Regions from separate parts of the Homo sapiens genome. Here all the other regions are reported to be linked to region 7. Evidence: microRNA targets listed by miRTarBase, many of them from high-throughput screens and not tested one by one. Region 7 holds a microRNA gene; each other region holds the end of a gene's coding sequence.

Region 1 (3,082 bases), not on the chromosome of region 7:
AATATAACATCCCAGTCAAAGCCTTGATAATATAATCAATGTTTTCAAATGTGTCCTGTTATAAAGAGAGCAGATTCTTACTGAACTTGTGCAAATAGCTTTATTACCATAAACATATGAATACTCATGAATAGATTCCCAATTCTGGGGCACTCAGATAGAGAGCAAAAGGAAATGTTTCAATTTTTGTTTACAAAAGTATACTTTACCAATTGCTCAAGAAAAAATGTTCATAAATCTGGAGAATGAAACATTCCAAGAATCAGCACATTTTCAAATAGAAAATTATGAAATCATTATCCTTTTGATTATTTAGTCCAATAACATTGAGTATTTTTCTTCTTTGTCTTGAATTTCATGAAGGTATCAGCCTGTTCATTAAAATTTTGAAAGTTCTTAGTCCAGTGGTATGATCTTGAAGTTATCAGGAGCTTGTATTCAAGAGTCCTTGTAAGAGACCTTTCCATAAATCTCCTTGAAGAAAAAGCAATTTTGGACTGTAGGTGATTGTAAGTAGTTTGAGGAAGAATCAAAGCAACTGTCTGGGAATGACAGAGATTTAAACTGACTATGGTTAAAAATCTAATGAGAATTTATTATGGTAAAGACACAGCTCACATAGAAATCTAGTTACTTCTGTGGCATATGACACTATGATAACATATTTGATTTTCAGAAATTTCATATAATTTTTAGAATACTCATTAAAAAAATTTTTTTTTCAGATGGAGTCTCACTCTGTCACCCAGACTGGAGTGCAGTGGTGCCATCTGAGTTCACTGCAAGCTCCGCCTCCGCGGTTCATGCCATTCTCCTGCCTCAGCCTCCTGAGTAGCTGGGACTACAGGTGCCTGCCACCACACCCGGCTAATTTTGTTTTTGCATTTTTAGTAGAGATGGGGTTTCACCGTGTTAACCAGGATGGTCTCGATCTCCTGACCTCGTGATCTACCCACCTCGGCCTCCCAAACTCCTGGGATTGCAGGCGTGAGCCATCGCGCTCAGCCTAGAATACTCATATTATTAACATTCCCATAAATATTATTTAGAGAAGGTTTAGCATCACTTATCCCTTATTTGAAAATGCTTTCTATAAATTTAATATATAAAATAAGGTGGCTTTTCCGTTCAGCTTCTGTTTCTCAAGAGGATTACTGAGTTCTTGGTGTAGCCCATTCATAAATAGGGCCAAAAATGTATAGTCTTATGTATGTTGAAAAAGGTCCTTAGGTAATTCCAGTACTTTTAGCTGAAAATCATTGATTTAGTTTTAAGTTCTACCTATTGCAACAGGAGTTCTCCATCCTTGTTACGTGTTAGTAGTGTCAGGGAAGACTTAAAAATTACCAGTGCCTGGGTCCCTCTCCAGACCTTTGAACTGGAACTAATGGGTGGGGCTTGAGCATCCACTTTTAGAAATGTTTTCCAGTGATTCCAATGTGTAGCTCTATTTCCCATCAGATTTCTCTGATTTCTTGTGGCATTCAATTTTTTCTATTTTGGTATCATGATTATTTTCAGGTCTCATTTCCTGTCTTAGGCTTTATGTCTCCTGGGGTAGGGACCTTGCCTTCTTCATTTCTGTATGTTTTTTGAACACATGAACTGATCATCAGGAAAAGATCTCAACCACACATAGGTTGTGTTCTGAGTCTCAGGTTCACATGTTAATCCTAAAGTCTTTGTTCTCCACGAGGTCACATGTTGCTTGTGATGAAGGGTGTGGTTAAGTCTGCAGTGCAGATGGTTGAAGGGATTTCACTCTGTTTTTAGACATAGCATTGGAACTAAGAATTTTATGTCTATATGGGTGAAGGGGCAGGGATGTGTAGGAAGACAGTTCTAATTAGGATGGAGGATTTATACTAGGAAGTAGAGGTAAAGGAAGTGAGAAGCCTTAGTAAATAGAAGAAATGTGAACTTATCAAATAGGCTAGAGTAGACCCCTGCAGATTCTTGATTAAATCAATTAACCAGATTTTAGAAAGGTAATGAGGCAATCATATGCAAGGAAGATTTCAAAGTCTGGAGACAAGAAGTCAAGCAATACTTTGAGAAGTGGTTGAGCTTTATGGGAATGGAGAGAATTACACTATTGAGAGATGTTAAAAATAATGAAGAGGGTTTCACCATGTGAAATTGTGTTTCTCATTTGAATCTGAGAAACAAATGAGCAGAGGCTGGAGATAATTATGTCTAAAAGACAGTGGGGTACAGGGAGCATAAAGGCCAGGGAGAAAGGGAACTGCAGGAATTAGTGCTGAGAAGCAGGAGTTTAGTGGAGGAAGGAGGAGATGCAGTCCCAGATACAGGCAAATAAGTCTTTTCCCTCTCCCAAGCATGGCAGTCAGCTCTGCAGGAACCAGGATAAGAGAAAAGGCCATCATACCTGCCAGTCTTCCTGAAATACAGAAATGACATCACAGCTGCTATGTTGGATTAAGGAGAGGAAGAAGTCCTATTCTTGTAGAAGCTGTCATGGAAAGAAAAGTAAAGAAGGAATGAAGGTGATGTTATTTTACATGGGGGAGCATCAGGAACAAGCATGTAACATGAGGTACTCTATAATTGTTTCTTCAAGGACCACATTATTTCTCTTGGAATATTGATGGGAGATGATTATATTCTTGCAGTTTTTTTTCCCTCTCACCATGTGTCTCGGTTGGTGATCAGTCCTCTGTCAATTCTCTACTGCACTCAGATATTTTGGAAGGCTTTCAGATGTGAGAAAGGCTGATTGCTATTTTCTATGTCATTAGAACTTGCCACATTTTCACCTTTTCATGGTTGCATCTTTTTCTCGGTGTTTCTGTTGTGGCAGTCATGAATGAGACTCTGTCAGGTCTCCATGGCAGGGACCTGATTGGCAGAAGGCCCAGGTCAGTGCATTTCAAATTCACCACCTCTTGTGCACAGAAAGCTTCTTTCCTACAGGCTCCCAGCAAGGGTGTGAAAGCAAGCCTAGTTCTCCGAGGCTCTCTTTAACTCTAATGGGTGACTGGTTGGAGGATTCCTCATCAGCCTTGCAAAAACTCTTAGAACTGCATTGGTACCTAAAACTTCTTTCTCTTTGTTTTTCATA
Region 2 (3,070 bases), not on the chromosome of region 7:
GATTTTGTTTAATTACTTCATGCCCAATATCATGGGGACCACATTTGCAGGATGTGGGGCATGATAACGCCCTGTGGTTAGGATAACAGCTGTTCTCAGTTGTAACATAAGCAGTACAAAGTGAAATACTCACAAAATTATCCTCAGGGCTGTGGTAGGAAGGAAGAATGTTATAGAGGTTGATTTGCCTACATCCATATAATTGGTATATTGTAAAGCCTAGTTTGGACTCAAGTCCATGCTTTTTCTTTTGCTTTGTTAAATGTATTTATTTTTACATTGCACTCTATCCTTGAAGAGGATGTGTGAGAGCTGCCTGCCTTTCATGGGAAGAAAGGGTTAGTATGCTGAAGGCTGAAGAGAATTTGGTGGCTGTTAATGTACCATGTAATGGTACCATGTAATGTGTAATATGCAAAAAAGCACATCCTACTGCCTCCCAGACCCTCATCAGCTTTCCTTACATTTCTGTAAACTGTTCATGTTTTACTGAGAAAACAATTCACAACACCACTCTGCGGGAAGATGGGACCCAGTACAGATGGGACATAGTTTAATCTTCATGTGTTAGAGAGTGAGTAACTACATATCAGAGGTTTTCAAAATGTGGTTCCTGGACCAGCAGCATCAGCATCTCCTGGGAACATGTTAGAAATACAAACTGCCCCAAATCGACTGAATCATAAATTCTAGGGGTGAGGTAGTTTAACAATTTCTTCACGTGATTCTGATACATTAAAATTTGAGAACTGTTGCTATAATCAAGGCTCTCAGGGAATGATTTTGTTCACAATTTGTCCTCAGTTGTGAGGATAGTTGTGTAAAATATTTTTTAGTAATAGAATGTCAAATAGAGATCCCTCCCATCATGTAGCCAAGAAGTGTTAAGCACCTACTGTATGCAGAAGAGTATGCTAGCTATTGTAGCAAAAGGAAAGATGAATAAAATATGGTTTCAACCATCTGTGAGCTCAATTTGCCAATGAAATAGAGATGTAAGTAGCACAGTAGCCTGCCTCATTGGGGGCTATGTGTAATAACCTTTTGCAAAATGAAAAATATGGGCTAAATTCACCATTGTATAGTTGATATTACCAAACCACCCTTTGCTCTTTTCAGGGATGAAGAAATGGAGGGTGTTCATTAAAAGCTTAACAGTTTGAACCATAATGTTCATATGGTTAGCTACTGAAACAGAATGCAGCCTCACACTTCTTTTCCATTGCTTTTGCCTTACAAATTAGCCCCAACCCCGGGAGCCTGAGGCTAGATCAGGATTACAAAGTCATCTTCTACCTGTTCAGCAATTAAACAAATTCACAATAGACTTTTCCTTCTATTTAACTTTTATTAAAAGAAGTGCTAAGGTACTGAGATGCAGTACATCATATTTATTACCAAAATTATTAACAAATATACAAAACTTGTACATGTAATTTTCTTACATCCATTTATTCTCTATAATACTGATTTTTGTTCAAGTAGGTTATCTACAGTATGTAAACATCCCTTGGATTGACCTCACACAGATTAGGAAAGCCCTCTAACCCATGCTTTTGTCAGATACTTCTTTTTTATTTGGCTTTCATTTGTAGCATCTAATCTCCACATTTGGCACATGGAAGAGACATCTACAGTGCAAAAGAGGCAGATTTTTCTGGTTTCATTCTGAACAATTTTGCAGGGGCACAGTTAAATAGCTGAGAGGAGACACGAGCACTCTAACTTGATGGCGTTGGATGAGCTGTAATGCCAACATCTCTTGGTTCAGCCACTAAACTTGAGCATAAAGTCAATGTCTCTTCCTTCACCCACCCTCCCACCCATCCACCCCCATGCAAGGCTGATTCAGTCTTAACCTTGTCTCAAAAGGGTTACGGGAAATTCCATCCATCCCAGAACAAGTAGGTTAATTTCACTGAGTAACAAGTTTTTTGTTCTTTCTTGTGGGTTGGTTTCTGTGGTTTGAGCCAGCAAAACTCTTAAATGGAGAATAAGATAAGATAAAAAACAGATACGAGAGTAGAACTTTCTGCTTTCAATTGGCATCTCTGTATCCAAGGCCAGAGCCTTTCTGTGGTGGAAAAGTGACAAAGGCCTTAGCGAATGGCAGAGAAAAGCCACCCTTGTCAGAACACCTTGGACTCCAAGCCTTCGCACACAGTGTCAGAAAAATCAAAAAGAAAAGAAAAAAAGGTAATTAAAGATTCTGCCCTCTTCCTTCTGGGTTTCCTTTTGCTTATTTAACTTAATCTACCCAAGTAAAGCTGATCCAGAGAGAGCTCTGTTCGCCTGCTCACCCCCATTCTCACTCTCCAGCACAGTATTGCTCGTGTGGTTGGCTGCACCTTGTCCGCGAAGCACCCGCGGAGAACGTCTGGATTTGGACGCGCGCCTGCCTCCTGGCTTCCGTCACCACAGCGGCGCGGGTCCCTCCGACGCCCCGTAGAGCTCGGCCAGCTTCCGGAAGCGGGGCCCCCAGTCCGTCAGGAAGTCGAAGCTCTGTTCCGAGTCCGACGTGGCCGACTGCAGGGAGCTCAGCGACCCCGCCACAGAGCCGTCCCCCTCGAACATATACGTCTGGAGGGAGTCGAAGGGCGGTGCCCACAGGTCCATGTCGGCCTCGTAGAGCTTGGCCAGCACGTAGCTGTGGACAGTGCTGTTCACTGCGCACGTCTGAGGCACGTAGCGGGAGAGGCTCTCGATCTCGGGCAGCATGTCCTGCCGCGTCTTGGGGGCGGCCCCCGCCTGCGCCTCCCGGGGGTTCCACATGGCCGCGATGTCGAAGGCCTCGGTGTCCTCCTCGCCGCCGCCCTCGTCGTCGTAGCGGACGATGTTCTCGTGGATGTTTTCCTCGTCGTCGATGATGTATGGTTGTTTCCGGTGCCGCCTCATGGACAAAATGAGCAACACCAGCACTGCCAGGAACAAAAAGGAGAGTGTGTTTACCGAGGAGATGTGGCTGTGTGTGCGGTGACTAGAAGTAGTCTTGATTCACCACGGATAGGGGAAGGGCTACCGAGTGGAGGGCTCAGAGATAGCTTTTGGATATCTGAAACCTCGGGGAGTT
Region 3 (3,083 bases), not on the chromosome of region 7:
CAGAGCACCACTAATAGGTCATAGACAAATGAGGTAAAGAGTCACAGCTGACACGAGCCCTTTCGAAATTGCAAACATGCCGTTCTGTGATCTCCCTGGAAGAGAATAATTACAAAAAGACTTCTCATGGAACAATTCATTTCAAAAGTATAAAAAAGCCACATGCAAATCCGTTTCTCACTGTTTGCCCTGCTAAAAACTACATCTGCATACAGATCTAGTTTGCATCTAATTTTTAAAAACACACAAAAGGGGTCATCTACACACACAGGTTTTCCAACTCTTCATGAAGCACAAAGATCCGTTATTTGACTTTTCCATCATCCCATGATCAATGTTTCTAAGACCCTAGGAAGAAAAGGAGAGAAAGAATTAGAGAACGTAAGCCTGCTCCGTTACAATCAACTATGTGTTACATGGAAGGTGGGGGAAATGATCCTTCACTTCGAATCTCTCCCCAGCAGGAAATGGTGCCAGTGGAGAGTGAAGGGCCCTGTGGAGTCCCAAGAAGTACTTTTAAGACCAAAAGGTGGACGTTTCAAAGCAGCAGACTCCAGCTTAATAAGATCTTTTCAACCATTGGAAAATCCACAGATGGCTCTCAGTGGTAGTGAGCTCTGTATCCCTGGAGGTATGTAAGCCAGAGCTGGCAATACTGTGTGTCACAGAAGGAACTCAAGACCTAGGCAGCAGTGATGCTCTTAAAATTCCACAATTTTTCATGGTATCCTTTTGATGTATTCACAACCCAGAATCATTTCTGCCTCAAAATATACGTGTATTTGAAAATTATAGATATATATATTTAAAACTGGAAACATATCTATATAAAACAAGTCACATATCATCAGGAAGACAATTTTAAGACCCAATCTCCTAACTCTTTGTTGAATTCCTATTTCACAGTTTTACATTTTCATATTTTTCTCCCCATTTCTAGGGCCTCTAACTACTCACGTACACCCATCCTTCAATCCTCATGCCACCTCCTCGATGATTCTTCCTTCATTTTCCCCAGTTCTAAGCTGCTTTTCATGCCTTAATATCTCCTCCCATTCCCTTACATCGCACTCCTTGTATTATAATTATGTCCACTTTTTGTTTTTCTGTGATCCCCTACAGACCAGAAGTAAGGCCTTGCACACAGAAGGTGTGCAACAGTAGTGGCTGAAAGAATAATATAACTAAAACCATGGCAAAATCCCCCTGCTTTTGAGAAACCCTATCAGACTTGTTTCTAATTTTTCCTGTTCTATTAAGCACCTGTTGATCAGCCTTGGTAATGGTGCCTGTTCACCACTGCTCCCCCATTCCTGTAAGAGGATCGTGCAGGCCAGGCACGGTGGCTCACGCCTGTAATCCCAGTACTTTGGGATGCCAAGGCGGGCGGATCATGAAGTCGGGAGATCAAGACCATCCTGGCTAACACGGTGAAACCCCGTCTCTACTAAAAATACAAAAAAATTAGCCAGGTGTGGTGGCGGGTGCCTGTAGTCCCAGCTACTCGGGAGGCTGAGGCAGGAGAGTGGCGTGAACCCAGGAGGCAGAGCTTGCAGTGAGCCGAGATCGCACCACTGCACTCCAGCCTGGGTGACAGAGTGAGACTCTGTCTCAAAAAAAAAAAAAAAAAATGATTGGTCTGTAAATGGGCGGGGCACACATCACATCCGAGCAGAAACTTTAAATGCAATGGTGTGTGCAGCCTGGCCACAGAACGGACATGTTCCACACTGGAGCTGTTCCTCCAGCTGGGTCCTGAATGAGGGGACACATGGGGCAGGGCCACAGCCAGCTCACAGCTATAACATGGAACATGAGCAAGTGATCAACGTCTGTGGCTGTGAACCAGCAAGATTTTGGGATTTTTATGAGCAAAAGCTGGCTTATAAAGTGATCCCTTTCCCGAATTCCCAGTTCACCTGTAGGCAAGGAACAGATGCAACCCCAGCTGTCACCTGTGTGACTACAGACTAGGAGGCCTTGACCAGAGGGGATGCAGAGATTCTCTCTGCCCCTACCCACAAGGAGATGTGTTGCAAAGCAGCACACAGTGCTGAGGACAGGAAGGCAAGGCCTGAGCCCCAGGAAGGAAGCTCAGGTGTCCTGAACAAGGAAGAGCTCCAGGAACACACAAAGGAAGCTCAGGCATCTTCTTTGTGGGAACATTTTCACATGGACGCTGTCACAATGACACTGTCTGCTACCTCTCTCAGTGCTCTTTCTAGAAGAATACAGAGGAAATATTCCCTCCAGCCCCAAAACACAACTGGTCTTTTCATCTCATGGACACACATCATGTTCACAGCTCTTGTCTTTGCATGCTAAGAAGCTCAGAGGGAGATGTGTGCAGAATATACCAGGGATTCTACTGCTCATCTAAGTATGTCCCTACTCTTCTTTTGCTCTTTCCCTGGTTTCCTCCATTTACGTATTTTTCTTCTTTTTTTTACAGGTCTTATAAGCCACCTCAAATATCTCATAACATGGGTGTAAAATACTGAAAATGACTTAGAACATGTACATTTCTCCATCACATGCGGTCATCGGGAGCTGGGAAGTGGAAGCTCCTGTATTTACTCAGATCTAGAACCGTCACTGTGCTGTGGGACTCAGCCTCTCCCACCATGTTGGCTGCATGGCACTGGTACACACCCTCATCCTCCTTTCGCAGGGGGTTGATCTAGAAATACAACAGGCAAGTTTATACAGTTATATAAGGAACAGCAAAATGACTTCCTTAGTTAGTTCTTAATGATAAGTCTGCACACTTCCTCCTTTTCAGAATAAGGTAAAACTTGCTCTATTTCTCTCCTTGCATTGGCTGCCAAGGAGCACGCAGGTAAATTTCCTTCCCAGGGACCCTCTTGAAAGGCACGCTCCCTATTGTGGCTCTCATCTGAATGATTCCTCCGCACACCTGCCTTTTACTGTGAGCTACCTGGTCTTTTGTATTAAAGGTGCAAGGTATAGGTTATTTGGAAAACACCTCAAGTTAAAAGAAGAACAAAAATCTACTGACCAAAGAATGATCCAGAAAGTATTCCCTATAGGGGCAGCCTCTACAAAATACCACCAGAGATAAC
Region 4 (3,083 bases), not on the chromosome of region 7:
TTAATTAATTTAAAATGGAAAATAATTCAAGTTGTTAGTTGAAAGAATTAGACACCAGTGTTTTGGTATCTTAACTTTTATTAATGTTGGTTATCACGGTTAATTAATTTAAAATTGTGGTTTATTAATATTTTAAGTTACTCTCATATTATATTTTATTAATTTTTTCTTATTTAAAAAGCTTGTCTCTGCCACTTCCTGTGTGACCTGGGCAAGTCATTTTACCTCTAAGAGCCTCAAATTTCCTCATCTATAAAGTGGAAATATAAATACAAAGCTTGCAGAAATGTCAGGAAAATAAATAAATTAAATGCTAAATAGTCAATGAGGGATATTAGGCAAAGGCCAGTTTTGGTGGCATTTTAACCTATGGAGACTCAGTGCCTCTGTGTGTCCCATTATCACCTCCAAGACATCCTGGCAACACCACCGCTTGGGACTAGCCAGCAGGGAGGCCCAGGACACCTGCCACCTGATAAAGTGGCTCCTGCTCTCTATTGGCTTCTTATGAACACTACTGGGCTCTTACCTATCTATCTTGAAGCCTCTATGGACAAAAAAGAGGCCAAAAGAGGAATGGCACAATGGTATCAACTCAAACGTGTGAGCCCGGCATGGTGGCTCACGCTGGTAATTCCAGCACTTTGGGAGGCACAGGCGGGTGGTTCACTTGAGGTCAAGAGTTTGAGACCAGCCCGGCCAACGTGGGAAAACCCCGTCTCTACTAAAAATACAAAAATCAGCGGGGTGTGGTGGCTGGGCGCCTGTAATATCAGTTACTTGGGAGGCTGAGGCAAGAGAATCACTTGAACGCGGGAGGCGGAGGTTGCAATGAGCCGAGATTGTGCCACTGCACTCCAGCCTGGGCAACAGAGTGAGACTCTGTCTCAAAAAAAAACAACCAAACAACAACAAAAACGTGTGAGAAGGGTGGAATAGGAGCTAAAAGATGTAGGCTCCTTGTTTAGGCAGAGCGTAAAATCACCACACAGAAGGCCGAACTCTGGGCCCCTAACTAGTGCTGCTCCAAGAACTGACTGGGGGAGGCAAAAGGTTCTGGGCAGAAAGGCAGGCTTTTTGTTCTTTTCAGTATCAGAAAATTTCAATCCAAACAACGGTAGCTACTCAAACTAGACGTTTTGAAGTTATATTTAGTTTAAACTATTCTATTTAGAAAATAAACCCTAATATTTATGAACTCTAAATGACAAAATAAGTACACGAATTCACGTAGGAAATTCTTAACCAAAAACATTAAACCTGAATTTGATCACAAGAAAATAATTAGGCCAGGCACTGTGGCTCACACCTATAATCCCAGTACTTTGGGAGGCTAAGGTGGGAGGATCGCTTGAGCCCAGGAGTTTGAGATCAACCTGGGCAACATAGTGAGACCCTGTCTCTACAAAAAATAAACAAAATTAGCCAGGTGTGGTGGGTATGCACCTTGATCCCAGATACTCGGGAGGCTGAGGTGGGAGGATTGCTTGAGCCCTAGAAGTTGAGGCTTCAGTGAGCCAAAATCAAAATTGTGCCACTGCACTCCAGCCTGGAAGACACAGCAAGACCCTCCCTCAACAAAATAATTTTAAAAATTAAAAAAAAAAGACAGAGGAACTTTCTTAGATTGAAAGATATTAAAGAAAAATAACAATTATTTGCAATATGTATGTCAACCTTGATTGATTACTGGAGTGAAAAAAAAACTACATAAAATGCTCTCTAAATAGTTGGGAAAATTTGAATATGGAATATATTAGATGAAATTATTAATTTTTTAGGTATAAAACTGATAAGGTGATTATGTAGAAAAATGTCTTTATTTTAGGGTATGTCAAGTTATAACACCAAAAAGAAACTAGGGGTGAAGTGTCATGATTTTTGCAACTTATTTTCAAATGGTTTAGCAAAACAAGATATATTTTAAAAGTTATAATATTTTATATAGAAACACATACAAAGAGAGGAGAGAGAAAGCAAATGTGACACAATATTAACAATGATTAATATTGTGGTGAAAGATATATAGATGTTCATTGTACCATTCTTTTAACTTCTCTGTAAGTTTGGAAAACTATAATTAAAAAGTTGGGAGAAGTTATATCTATATGCTCCTCTTAAAATATTATATGAAGATATACACTATCATTATTATTATTATTTTTAGAGACAGGGTCTCATTCTGTCACCCAGGCTGCTCACTGCAACCTCAAACTCTCCCAGACTCAAGTGATCCTCCCACCTCAGCCTCCCATGTGGCTGGGATTATAGGCAAGTACTACCATGCCGGGCCAATTTTTTTTTTGTTTGTAGAAATGAGGTCTTGCTATGTTGCCCAGGCTGGTCTCAAACTCCTGGTCTCAAGTGATCCTCCTGCCTCAGCCTCCCGAAGTGCTGGGATAAAAGGTGTGAACCACCATACCCAGCCAGTATTATCTTTTCATTTCATTTTCCAGTTGAGTATATTATTGGCTACATTTGCATACCGCACAATTGTTCATTTTTTAAAAACCAATATTTTGTTTTGTTCTGTTGTCTACAATAAGGAGAATTCAGATGATAAACTTACAACCAATCATGGCCAAGTCCACTTGAGGAATTGTCTCTGTAGATTTATCTGTAGACTCTCTAATAAGGAGTTTTATGGCCGTATGTTTCGTGTTTCCCCTGATGTGCCCTGTTACTGTTCCTCTTGCCATGGTGTTTCTTCCTGTGGCAAACATTTCCTTTACCATTTTTCTTGGCAGCTTGCACTTTCATCCACTGCTTAACAGTATGGTTGTGCGGGCTGACACAGATTCTTCTGCGCTTGACATGAAGGCTGTTAGAAAAGGAAGCAAAAGAAAGTCACTGATATAAAACATATATAAATAATCACTTAGTGACTTACATGCAGCTCCCACTTTGGGACACTGTATTCCTAGAGACTAAATTCAGACTAAATTTCTGAATTAAGTGTAGAAATGAAGTGAATTCTAAAGCTGAGCACCACAAGGTTCAATTTTGACTTTACAAACACTGCTGCCTGTGGGTCCTCAGATATCATCAGAGAGTATTAAAAGAAAGAGAAGGAGAAGAAGGAA
Region 5 (3,083 bases), not on the chromosome of region 7:
TTCACCATGCTGCCCAGGCTCGTCTCAAACTCCTGACCTCGTGATCCACCCGCCTTGGCCTCCCAAAGTGCTGGGATTACAGGTGTGAGCCACCGAGCCCGGCCATCTTTTTTGTTTGTTTGTTTGATATTTTTAGACAGGCTGGAGAGCACTGGTGTGATTATGGCTTACCGCAGCCTTGACCTCCTGGGCTCAAGCAATCCTCCCGCCTCAGCTTCCAAAGTGGCTGGGAACAGAAGTGCAGGCCACTACACCTAGCTAATTTTTATACTTTTTGTGGAGACGTGGTTTTGCTATGTTGCCCAGGCTGGTCTTGAACTCCTGGCCTCAAGTGATCCTCCTGCTTTGGCCTCCCAAAGTGCTGGGAGTATAGGCGTGAGCCACCACACCCAGTTGGAATTTTTTGCTATACACAGTGCTGCCTTTTTTTTTCTTTCTTTTTTTTCTTTCCTCCATGACAGAGGCTTTGAATGTGGAAATGACCTCCTAAAGCTGTCACACTGGAATCCTACTGTAAAAATGATTTGCTTTTTCCTATATGTCCTTGGTCATTGCTAAAAAATATAACAATTTATTATTTATCTTTATTTTTAAGATTTTGGTTTGTTCTCCCAACACTGATGCTAAAGGTGTTTTGAAATACAGTGGGCACACAGTCTCAGAAGGAATATGTCCAAAACTTCAGAAAAATACCAACAGTGAGAACTTGCAAAACATCTTAGCCACTGACAGCTTAAACACAGTCTATTAATAAGGAAGTGTTGCCAGCCCTTTAAAGCTGACATTTGTTACAACATTTATTTTTCGTAATCTTTTTTTTTTTTTTTTTTGAGACGTAGTCTCGCTCTGTCGCCCTGGCTAGAGTGCAGTGGCGCGATCTCGGCTCACTGCAAGCTCTGCCTCCCGGGTTCACGCCATTCTCCTGCCTCAGCCTCCCGAATAGCTGGGACTACAGGCGCCTCTGCCACCGCGCCCAGCTAATTTTTTTTGTATTTTTAGTAGAGACCGGGTTTCACCGTGTTAGCCAGGATGGTCTCGATCTCCTGACCTCGTGATCCGCCCGCCTTGGCCTTCCAAAGTGCTGGGATTACAGGCTTGAGCCACCGCGCCCGGCTTATTTTTCGTAATCTTAATGTTTCTTTTAATCACAAAAGTAGTTACATAAATGCTGTAGAAAAATTTAAAATACAGCTAAGCAAAAGAAGAAAAATAAAATATTTCTACCATCCAGAGATTATAGATAAAAACACTTGAGTGGGTATCCTTCTACATGTTATTCTATACACATTTATTTATTCATTTTTTAATCTAAATGAGAACACATGGCTGGGCACAATGGCTCATGCCTATAAACCTAACACTTTGGGAGGGCGAAGCAGGAGGATTGCTTGAGCCCAGGAGTTTGAGACCAGCCTGGGCAACATAGCGGGACCCTATCTTATTAAAACAAACAAAAAAAACCAAAACCAAACCAAAACCAAATGGGCGTACACTGTGCATATTGCTTTGTAACATACTTTTTTTCAGCTAACAATCTTTCTGTTTTCACATTTTCTTACATTATACTTTCTTTTCTCTTTTTTTTTTTTTTTTTTTTTGAGACAGAGTCTCGCTCTGTCACCCAGGCTGGAGGGCAGTGGTGCGATCTCGGCTCACTGCAAGCTCCGCCCCCTGGGTTCACGCCATTCTCCTGCCTCAGCCTCCCGAGTAGCTGGGAATACAGGCGCCGCCACTACGCCCGGCTAATTGTTTGTATATTTAGTAGAGACGGGGTTTCACCGTGTTAGCCAGGATGGTCTCGATCTCCTGACCTCGTGATCCACCCGCCTCGGCCTCCCAAAGTGCTGGGATTAGAGGCGTGAGCCACCAAGACCGGCCGTGATTGTGGTTTTTGCCATTGTTTTTTAATGACAAAAACCATAATTGCTTTTGCACCAGCCTAATAGTTATCCAAGTGATTAGTTTAAGATCATCCCCTGGTTCTGGCCATTTTCATTGTACCAAAAAATTACTTATATACTTACACCTTTCTATTTTTTATTTTTTACATCAAACAGGTAATGTGATGATGCTGTAACAAGGTTTGAGGGAAGCATATCTGACACATGAGCATGAAACCAAATCACCATGCTTATGGACTACAAAAGGACCTAAGCCTTTTAAACTAGACTGTCTCAACTGTGCATTAATTATGTATTTAGATATAGGATATGTGCTTGGGAAAATGTATAACTAAACTTTATGTCTTACTTCTCAAACTTAAGAAAAACAAAAACATCTAGCAACATCTTACATGAGTTTTCCATTACCTAGTGTTACATCATTGTTAAAATCATACTCTAAGCCTATATTTTACCTTAATGTTATCTGCTTCATAGAATAGTTATTCCTTTAACACTTATTTTTAAGAAATAAATTTATTTTACTTGTAGTTACTTAAACCCTAGAAATAATTTTTTCAAACAGTAGAAGTACAGCCTTTTATAATAAGATAGTTCATGATTTGTTCTTTCGAGGATTTTTTTTTTAATAAGGTTCTTCTACAATTGGATGGTGACAAAGTTTGGGTTTGTTAGGATTATTTTTCAGCAGCCAATCAGCTAGCCAAATCTATGGGAAAAAAAAAAACAACCTAAGTTAAGAAACAGTTACATATTTCCTTTCAATATATACTATATCAATTGGAAACTTAAACAGTTTTCAAAATCACTTTAAGAAAATGACCATTAAAAATGGAAACATTTGGATTTACATTATGCAAGATTGTCAAGAATAGATCCAAACTGGCAAGAAAGAAGTAAAACTATCTCTTTTCACAGATGGCATAAACCTACATGTGGAAAACCCTAAGGAATTTACAAGGAAGCCACTACAGCTAATAAATTCAGCGAAGATGTAGGTTACAATACACAAAAATCAACTGTATTTCTATACATCAGCAATGACAGTCCAAAAAAAAATTTTAAATCACTTTCATTTACAGTAGCATAAAGACAAATAAAATGCCAAGGGATAAATTTAACCCAAGAAGCGAAAGGCTTATACATTAAGAACTGTAGAACATTGCTGAAAGAAATTAAAGA
Region 6 (3,083 bases), not on the chromosome of region 7:
TTACTTTCCCCAGGTGCTAATCAGGTGACAAGCACAGTGGACAGCCTCGACAGCCATGACCTGGAAGGGGTACAGATTGACTTCGATGCCATCATAGACGATGGGGACCACTCCAGCCTGATGTCGGGGGCCCTGAGCCCAAGTATCATTCAGAACCTTTCCCATAGCTCCTCCCGCCTCACCACGCCTCGGGCGTCCCTCCCATTCCCAGCGCTGTCCATGAGCACCACCAACATGGCTATCGGGGACATGAGTTCTTTGCTGACCTCCCTAGCGGAAGAAAGCAAATTCCTTGCAGTTATGCAATAGGCTTTAGGAAAAAAAGACTGCAACCAACGGAAATCAATAGGAGTTGAAGAGATTAAACTGACTTTGTTTTGGCTGTTTTTTTAGTTCTGTATGTATTTTAGCAATCTCATCTCACCTAACTGAGATGTGTTTCAATTATATTCCTTTTATGGAAAAGGACTCTGAAAAACCCTAAAGTATTCTAGGGAGAAACTGTCTTCCATTTCAGTTTTGAATCAGTATTGTTACACTCAAACCACCCTCTTTTTAAAAAAAAAAAAAAAAACTGTAAGCCCCGCCCCCTTTTTAGTAAACCGATGTAAATTTGTGATGTGCATATTCTTCTTTCTTTTAGAAGAGCAGTCAAATTAAAGGATTTGACATGTTTTGCTGTTGCTCAAAGGAAATAGGAGTTGGTGTGCTTGTGACCAAGGGGTTACACTTCCAGCTTTTAAAATTCTCCTTTACATGTGCTCAGTGTTTTGTTTTGTGTTTTGGTTTCTGTTTTTTATTTTAATTCCCACATTGGGCACAAGAATCAGAATATGGATAGCTAGTTTAAGAAACTTTTGTGGGTGCACTGTAGCATAGATGACAGAATATTGATGTTCCCCCCATCTCCAATTCAGTTCAGGGCATTCCACAGTTAAACAGAAATGGGAACGTGGGGCTCTTATAAATGAAATGGGCGCTCACAGTTTTGGTTTTCAGCTCTTCATGTCTGTAAGTGTGCTTTGGGGGAGGCTATGTCTGTATGGTCGATTCTCAGTTATCACATTTGCCTCTCCTCCCACTACCTTCATGAACATTCAGTGCTGTTTCGCACTGCAGTTAGAGAGAAGGGACGGACAGTTGGTGACACTCAGCCACATTGCTACTTTTATCTGTTCTGGTAAGAAGTTAGATAGATGGTAGATTGAAGCAATTGGGTAGAATTAGTTGGGGGAATATTTATGAGTTGCTGTGTTTGTTGATTAGTTCCATCTCTTTCCCATTTTAACTGAGAATTGATTATATATAGCTCTAAGTATATAGGTATTTAAACAACCCCACAAGCGGCTGTATCAGTAACATTTATTAATTCCACTATAGTGAGGGAGGATTTCCATTCTAAATACCTTATTTTGAGGGATTTATAAAACTTAGTTGTAAAAGAGAAAGCCCACATAGTGGGAATAAATTGCTTCAGCCATTTTTAGTATTTGAGAGCACTAGGGAAGATGTTTAGTAGCTGTGTGGATGCCTTTTTTCACACCCTGTCTATTGAATGCTGCATCCATTCACGAAGTTAAATGTTACATGCAGTTAGTCCTTAATGTGGACTGGATCTGTACTTTTGTTTTGGATTAAAACATTTAAAGATTTTTGAAGTGCAGCTACTCCCCACGTGCATTTGATACACATAAAAGTCATACTGTGTGTGCACAAAGAGTACATGGATTTTCCAGCATATTGCTTTAAAAAATTATATAAACTGTTAAAATATTAACACCTCAGGCTACCTGCTGTATTCTGTCCCATTGACCCCTGGAATTGGATTTACTGCAAGTGATTGATAATTCAATTATGTGGCTTTTCCCCTTTAATCTTGCCATTTAAATTACAGTAGAAAGACAAAATCAAGTAAAATAAAGTGTTAGATAATAGAAAGAGTGTTAAGACCAGCCCACTTTTCTCATGTTTATGTTCTTTCATTTGGACCAAGAATCTCCGCATGGAGGTTGATTTGCCACTGGGGACTTTGGCTAAGACTATTAGGTTTGCTTTCAACTAGATGTTCCTGAGACAAGCAGAGGGACACTGCAATTCCCCTTCCATGCCTGCTGTTCTCCCCCATGTAAGTCTTCTTTGAAATTAACGGATGTGTCTCCTTTGGAACAGCCCCATAACAAAAGAGAACTACTGATCTGAGCATAGGAAAGTAGAGGCTCTACCACTTTTCAGTTGAAAAAGCAAGACTTTCTCTGTGTTTCTGAAACAAGGCATAATGTTGTCACAGAATCAGAGATCCAGTCTCACTTTTCCACAAATCTCCAAATCTCCAGTCTTATCTTGTGTGCTCTAATGGTTTGGTTCAATCCCTTTCCAACTCTTGTTTTCAAAGCATGGGGCCTGAGTGTTCTCCACTCCTCCTAAGAAAGGAGCTTGGGTGGAAGGGACCATGCTGACCTCCTCCATCAGAGGGCTCTTCCAGTAGTATTCTCGGATGCAACCTCCATTTCTCAGTTACCATTATTTCCTGTATCAGCTTTGTCCTTCCTGGAGGGATGCACAGTGATCCGGCCCACCACTGTTGTTGTCTTGTGCTTCTGCTCTTTCCTATGGTTTCAGGTTATTTTCTGGGTTTCCCCTATTCTTCTTTTATTTCTTTTTTTTTTTATATTTGCTTTCCTTTCTACTGCTTTTAGATTTGCAGGAGATGCAAGTTTCAGCTCAATGTTTGGCTTCTCTCAATATGGAAATTTCAGAAGGACAGAGGAGAGGAGGGAGGAAGAAGAAAGTATACTCCTCCAGAATTTCAGTGATCTGTTGTGGCAGTCCAGTGGAAGGAAGGTCTTTTGAGGTCACTTAGAAGCATCTTTTTGGGACATCCTTTTGGGATCTCTGTAGGCTAGGCATCTCATATCTTGAGACTCACCCCCAGCCTCCAAGCCTCTCTCCATTTCTCTAACCTATGCATTTTAGAGCGAGAGGACCGCCTCACTAGTGTCACCATCCTGCCTTTTCTAAAACATGCAGGCTCACACATTCTACTCCTGCTTAATGTCTGTGTTAAACGTTTTCTAACCATTTTT
Region 7 (3,083 bases):
GAATAAACAAGGCATGAGTAACTCCTCTCTCAAACTAAAGAACTTTGTTGCCTAGTGGAGGGAAGTCCTCTAGAGTCTAGTCTTAAAAGGTCACAAGTAGAAGCAGCTCTCCTAACTCCTAATTCCTCACAGAAAGATCTTCCTGTAAAGCAGGCTCAGTTCTATAACAACTTGGGTCCTCAATTCCAAAAGGGAGACAACAATGGGAATGAGTTTTCTTAATGGAAGAAAAGAAGTCCAAAAGGAACAAAATTTAGACGAAATCATTTTTTCCCACAACCTTTTCCTGGAAATCTTTGGCTCTGTTCCTCTATCCACATTCACAGCAACTTTAGAGAGCTGCCCATTAGTTTAAGCTGGGCATTAACCTGGCATAGGAAACTGGTTCTTGCAGCCATAGAGTTTGGCATCCCTAGAACCCAAAGAAAAGCAAAGCCCTAATGGCCCCCAGCCAACTGGGAGAGTCAGACAATGTCCTTTGTGGCCAACAGGGTGTGAGTGCCTACAACAGCCACACCGGCAAAGAGAGAACATATCCCTGGGTTCTGCTCTTGGTTCTTTTCACTGGCTTCCTAGAAGACATTATCAAAGAAACCCCAAAAATAGAAACATTGGATCTTCCTGGGAAGAATAAAAGACAGGCTAAGGAGGACAAGGATAAAGACTAGATTTGACATAGAGCTTACTGGAGCTCTCAAAAGGGAAAGAAGGCATTACAGAAAAGGCTGGTCATTTCAAACTTCCAAAGGAGGAAGCATACTAAATAAAGCTGAGAATTTAGGCAGGCGCTTAAATGCCGCTTCAATTCTCCATTCTGCTACAGCTGGAGCCAGCAGCTTCTTTACTTCTCCTGCCACCTCCTGACTGCAGCTGGTTCCACTTCAGCCTGGGGCTTTTACCTCTCAGGAGTGGGGAGGGCTATGCCATAAAACTAGCCAGTTTAAAGGCCCCAGAAGTCATTACTGATAATGTAATTTCATTTTAAGTTTTTGCAAAGGGCAAGTTTATAAATAACTCCCAGCTACTGAGAAATGGGCTTCCAGGACAATGGACTAGGCTTGACCTTGTAACACATTAAATGCTGACTGTTGAGAAAGACCTTATCAGCTTAGGGCCACACTGAAAGAATTTAAAAGGTCTATTCTTCCCTCCCACTCCCAAAATGGGTAGCTGCTAGAAAGCTTTCGAGACAAAGTTCTGTGATGCACTGACTTTCAGAGAGCCACAGCCTGAGTGTATAACAGAACTTCACCTCAAATGCTAATCGTGCTTGGAAATGATGTATAGGCAGATTGTTTTGTGGGAGATTGGGTGACTTAGACAGATTTTCATGTATTTATGTTTTTATTATCAAGAAAACAAGAATGCTGTCCTCAAGACAGGTGAAACACCACAGAACAAGCAACTAGGCTGCTGCAAATGAATCTTTGATCTCAGGGGCTTCTTTTTTTTTTTTTTTTTTTTTTTTTGCGACAGTCTCTCTCTGTCACCCAGGCTGGAGTGCAGTGGAGCAAACTCCGCTCACTACAACCTCCACCTCCCGGATTCAAGTGATTCTTGTGCCTCAGCCTCCCGGGTAGCTGGGACTACAGGCACACACCCCCATGCCCAGCTAATTTTTGTATTTTTAGTAGAGACGGGGTTTCACCAAATTGGCCAGGCTGGTCTCGAACTCCTGACCTCATGATCTGCCTGCCTCGGCCTCCCAAAGTGCTGGGATTACAGGCGTGAGCCACCGTGCCCGGCCTCAATCAGGGGCTTCTAAAGCCTGGTGAAAAGCATCAACATCTCCAAGAACTCTCTCCCCTAGCGCATAGAGGACTAGAGGGAAAGAGTCATTCCTAGTGCTGCCCCCTGTGGGCCTTCTCGGTGACCTGCAGCTTCCACAGGATTACAGTCATAAGCAAAAATATTTTTCAAAGGCAGCTCTGGATAAGAGCTTTTTTTTTTTTGAGACGGAGTCTCGCTCTGTCGCCCAGGCTGGAGTGCAGTGGCACGATCTCAGCTCACTGCAAGCTCCGCCTCCTGGTTCAAGCTCTCCTGCTTCAGCCTCCCGAGTAGCTGGGACTACACGCACCTGCCACCATGCCCGGCTAATTTTTTGTATTTTTAGTAGGGATGGGGTTTCACTGTAGCCAGGATGGTCTCAATCTCCTGACCTCGTGATCCGCCCGCCTCGGCCTCCCAAAGTGCTGGGATTACAGGCGTGAGCCACCGCACCCGGCAAAAGCTCTCTATTTGTGTGTCTTGTAGGACAAACTAGTAGAGATGGGCCCTGAAAAATAAGTGAATTAAGTCTGTTCACAATGTATATAGTAAGAGAACTCTTTGGGGTAAGATCTTAGTAAGCCACCAGAAGACTGGGAGAATATGTTTGGGGAAGGTAGAGAGGATACTTGGAAACTATAATGAATTATTTGATTCATTTAGGGGAAAAAACCAAGAAGCCTCTATGGAGGGAATTACAGGATGCCATCTACAGAGCTGAAAGAGCACAAATAAGAATATGGAGGCCAGGCGCAGTGGCTCATGCCTGTAATCCTAGCACTTTTGGAAGCTGAGGCAGGAGATCACTAGAGCCAGGAGTTCAAGACCAACCTGGGCAACACAGTGAGACCCTGTCTCTGCAAGAACTTAAAAAAAACAAAAATTAGCCAGGCATGGTGGCATGCACCTGTAGTCTCAGCTACTCAGGAAGCTGAGGCAGGAGGATCGCTTGAGCTTGGGAGTTCAAGGCTGTAGTGAGCTACAATTGCGCTACTGCACTCCAGCCTACACAAAAGAGTGAGACCGCCTCAAAAAAAAAAAGAAGCTGACTGAGATCACTAAAAAGTTCTTCATTGTCTACTTAAAAATAAATCCTTCCAGCCTGGCCAACATGGTGAAACCCTGTCTCTACCAAAATTACAAAACTTAGCCAGGCATGGTAGCAGACGCCTGTAATCCCAGCTACTCAGGAGGCTGAGGCAGGAGAATCGCTTATACCTGGGAGGCAGAGGTTGCGGTGAGCTGAGATCGCACCACTGCACTCCAGCCTGGGCGACAGAGCAAGACTTCAGATCAAAAAAAAAAAAAACATTCCC

The links. The annotated mature microRNA hsa-miR-148b-3p reads UCAGUGCAUCACAGAACUUUGU and lies in region 7 at 1,190-1,211, opposite strand. An mRNA with a match to its seed (bases 2 to 7 or 8) in the 3' UTR can be bound and repressed. Matches are read on the target gene's strand: a 7mer-m8 pairs with bases 2 to 8, a 7mer-A1 pairs with bases 2 to 7 and ends in A, and an 8mer does both.
Region 1: the mRNA of PSG2 is a reported target of hsa-miR-148b-3p. The part of its 3' UTR that is shown has no 7-base or 8-base seed match.
Region 2: miRTarBase lists CDH20 as a target of hsa-miR-148b-3p. Seed matches in the 3' UTR shown: 7mer-m8 at 1,635-1,641.
Region 3: miRTarBase lists IGFBPL1 as a target of hsa-miR-148b-3p. The part of its 3' UTR that is shown has no 7-base or 8-base seed match.
Region 4: the mRNA of CCL28 is a reported target of hsa-miR-148b-3p. Seed matches in the 3' UTR shown: 7mer-A1 at 378-384.
Region 5: the mRNA of NME5 is a reported target of hsa-miR-148b-3p. The part of its 3' UTR that is shown has no 7-base or 8-base seed match.
Region 6: miRTarBase lists GLI3 as a target of hsa-miR-148b-3p. Seed matches in the 3' UTR shown: 7mer-m8 at 865-871.

Annotation. Positions count from the first base shown.
Region 1 is chr19:43,064,128-43,067,209 of GRCh38, forward strand. PSG2 (pregnancy specific beta-1-glycoprotein 2) reads right to left here. Exons shown (of 6, transcript NM_031246.4): 5 at 2,390-2,473; 6 at 82-474. The coding sequence ends at 2,430. Among named protein-coding and RNA genes, the nearest start is that of PSG2, 17 kb to the right of the region's middle.
Region 2 is chr18:61,554,038-61,557,107 of GRCh38, reverse strand. It overlaps CDH20 (cadherin 20), which reads right to left. Exons shown (of 12, transcript NM_031891.4): 12 at 1,329-2,918. The coding sequence ends at 2,413. Among named protein-coding and RNA genes, the nearest start is that of LINC01544, 190 kb to the left of the region's middle. RefSeq lists an enhancer at 2,515-3,022.
Region 3 is chr9:38,408,870-38,411,952 of GRCh38, forward strand. It overlaps IGFBPL1 (insulin like growth factor binding protein like 1), which reads right to left. Exons shown (of 5, transcript NM_001007563.3): 4 at 2,522-2,680; 5 at 1-348. The coding sequence ends at 2,531. Among named protein-coding and RNA genes, the nearest start is that of IGFBPL1, 14 kb to the right of the region's middle.
Region 4 is chr5:43,379,232-43,382,314 of GRCh38, forward strand. It overlaps CCL28 (C-C motif chemokine ligand 28), which reads right to left. Exons shown (of 3, transcript NM_148672.3): 3 at 1-2,821. The coding sequence ends at 2,629. Among named protein-coding and RNA genes, the nearest start is that of CCL28, 32 kb to the right of the region's middle.
Region 5 is chr5:138,113,155-138,116,237 of GRCh38, forward strand. NME5 (NME/NM23 family member 5) reads right to left here. Exons shown (of 6, transcript NM_003551.3): 6 at 2,021-2,610. The coding sequence ends at 2,527. It overlaps LOC124901208 (small nucleolar RNA U13), which reads right to left and starts at 2,150; the gene lies at 2,048-2,150.
Region 6 is chr7:41,961,556-41,964,638 of GRCh38, reverse strand. It overlaps GLI3 (GLI family zinc finger 3), which reads left to right. Exons shown (of 15, transcript NM_000168.6): 15 at 1-3,083. The coding sequence ends at 309. Among named protein-coding and RNA genes, the nearest start is that of INHBA, 260 kb to the right of the region's middle.
Region 7 is chr12:54,335,406-54,338,488 of GRCh38, reverse strand. It overlaps MIR148B (microRNA 148b), which reads right to left and starts at 1,273; the gene lies at 1,175-1,273. All of the region lies in intron 1 of COPZ1 (coat protein complex I subunit zeta 1), which reads right to left.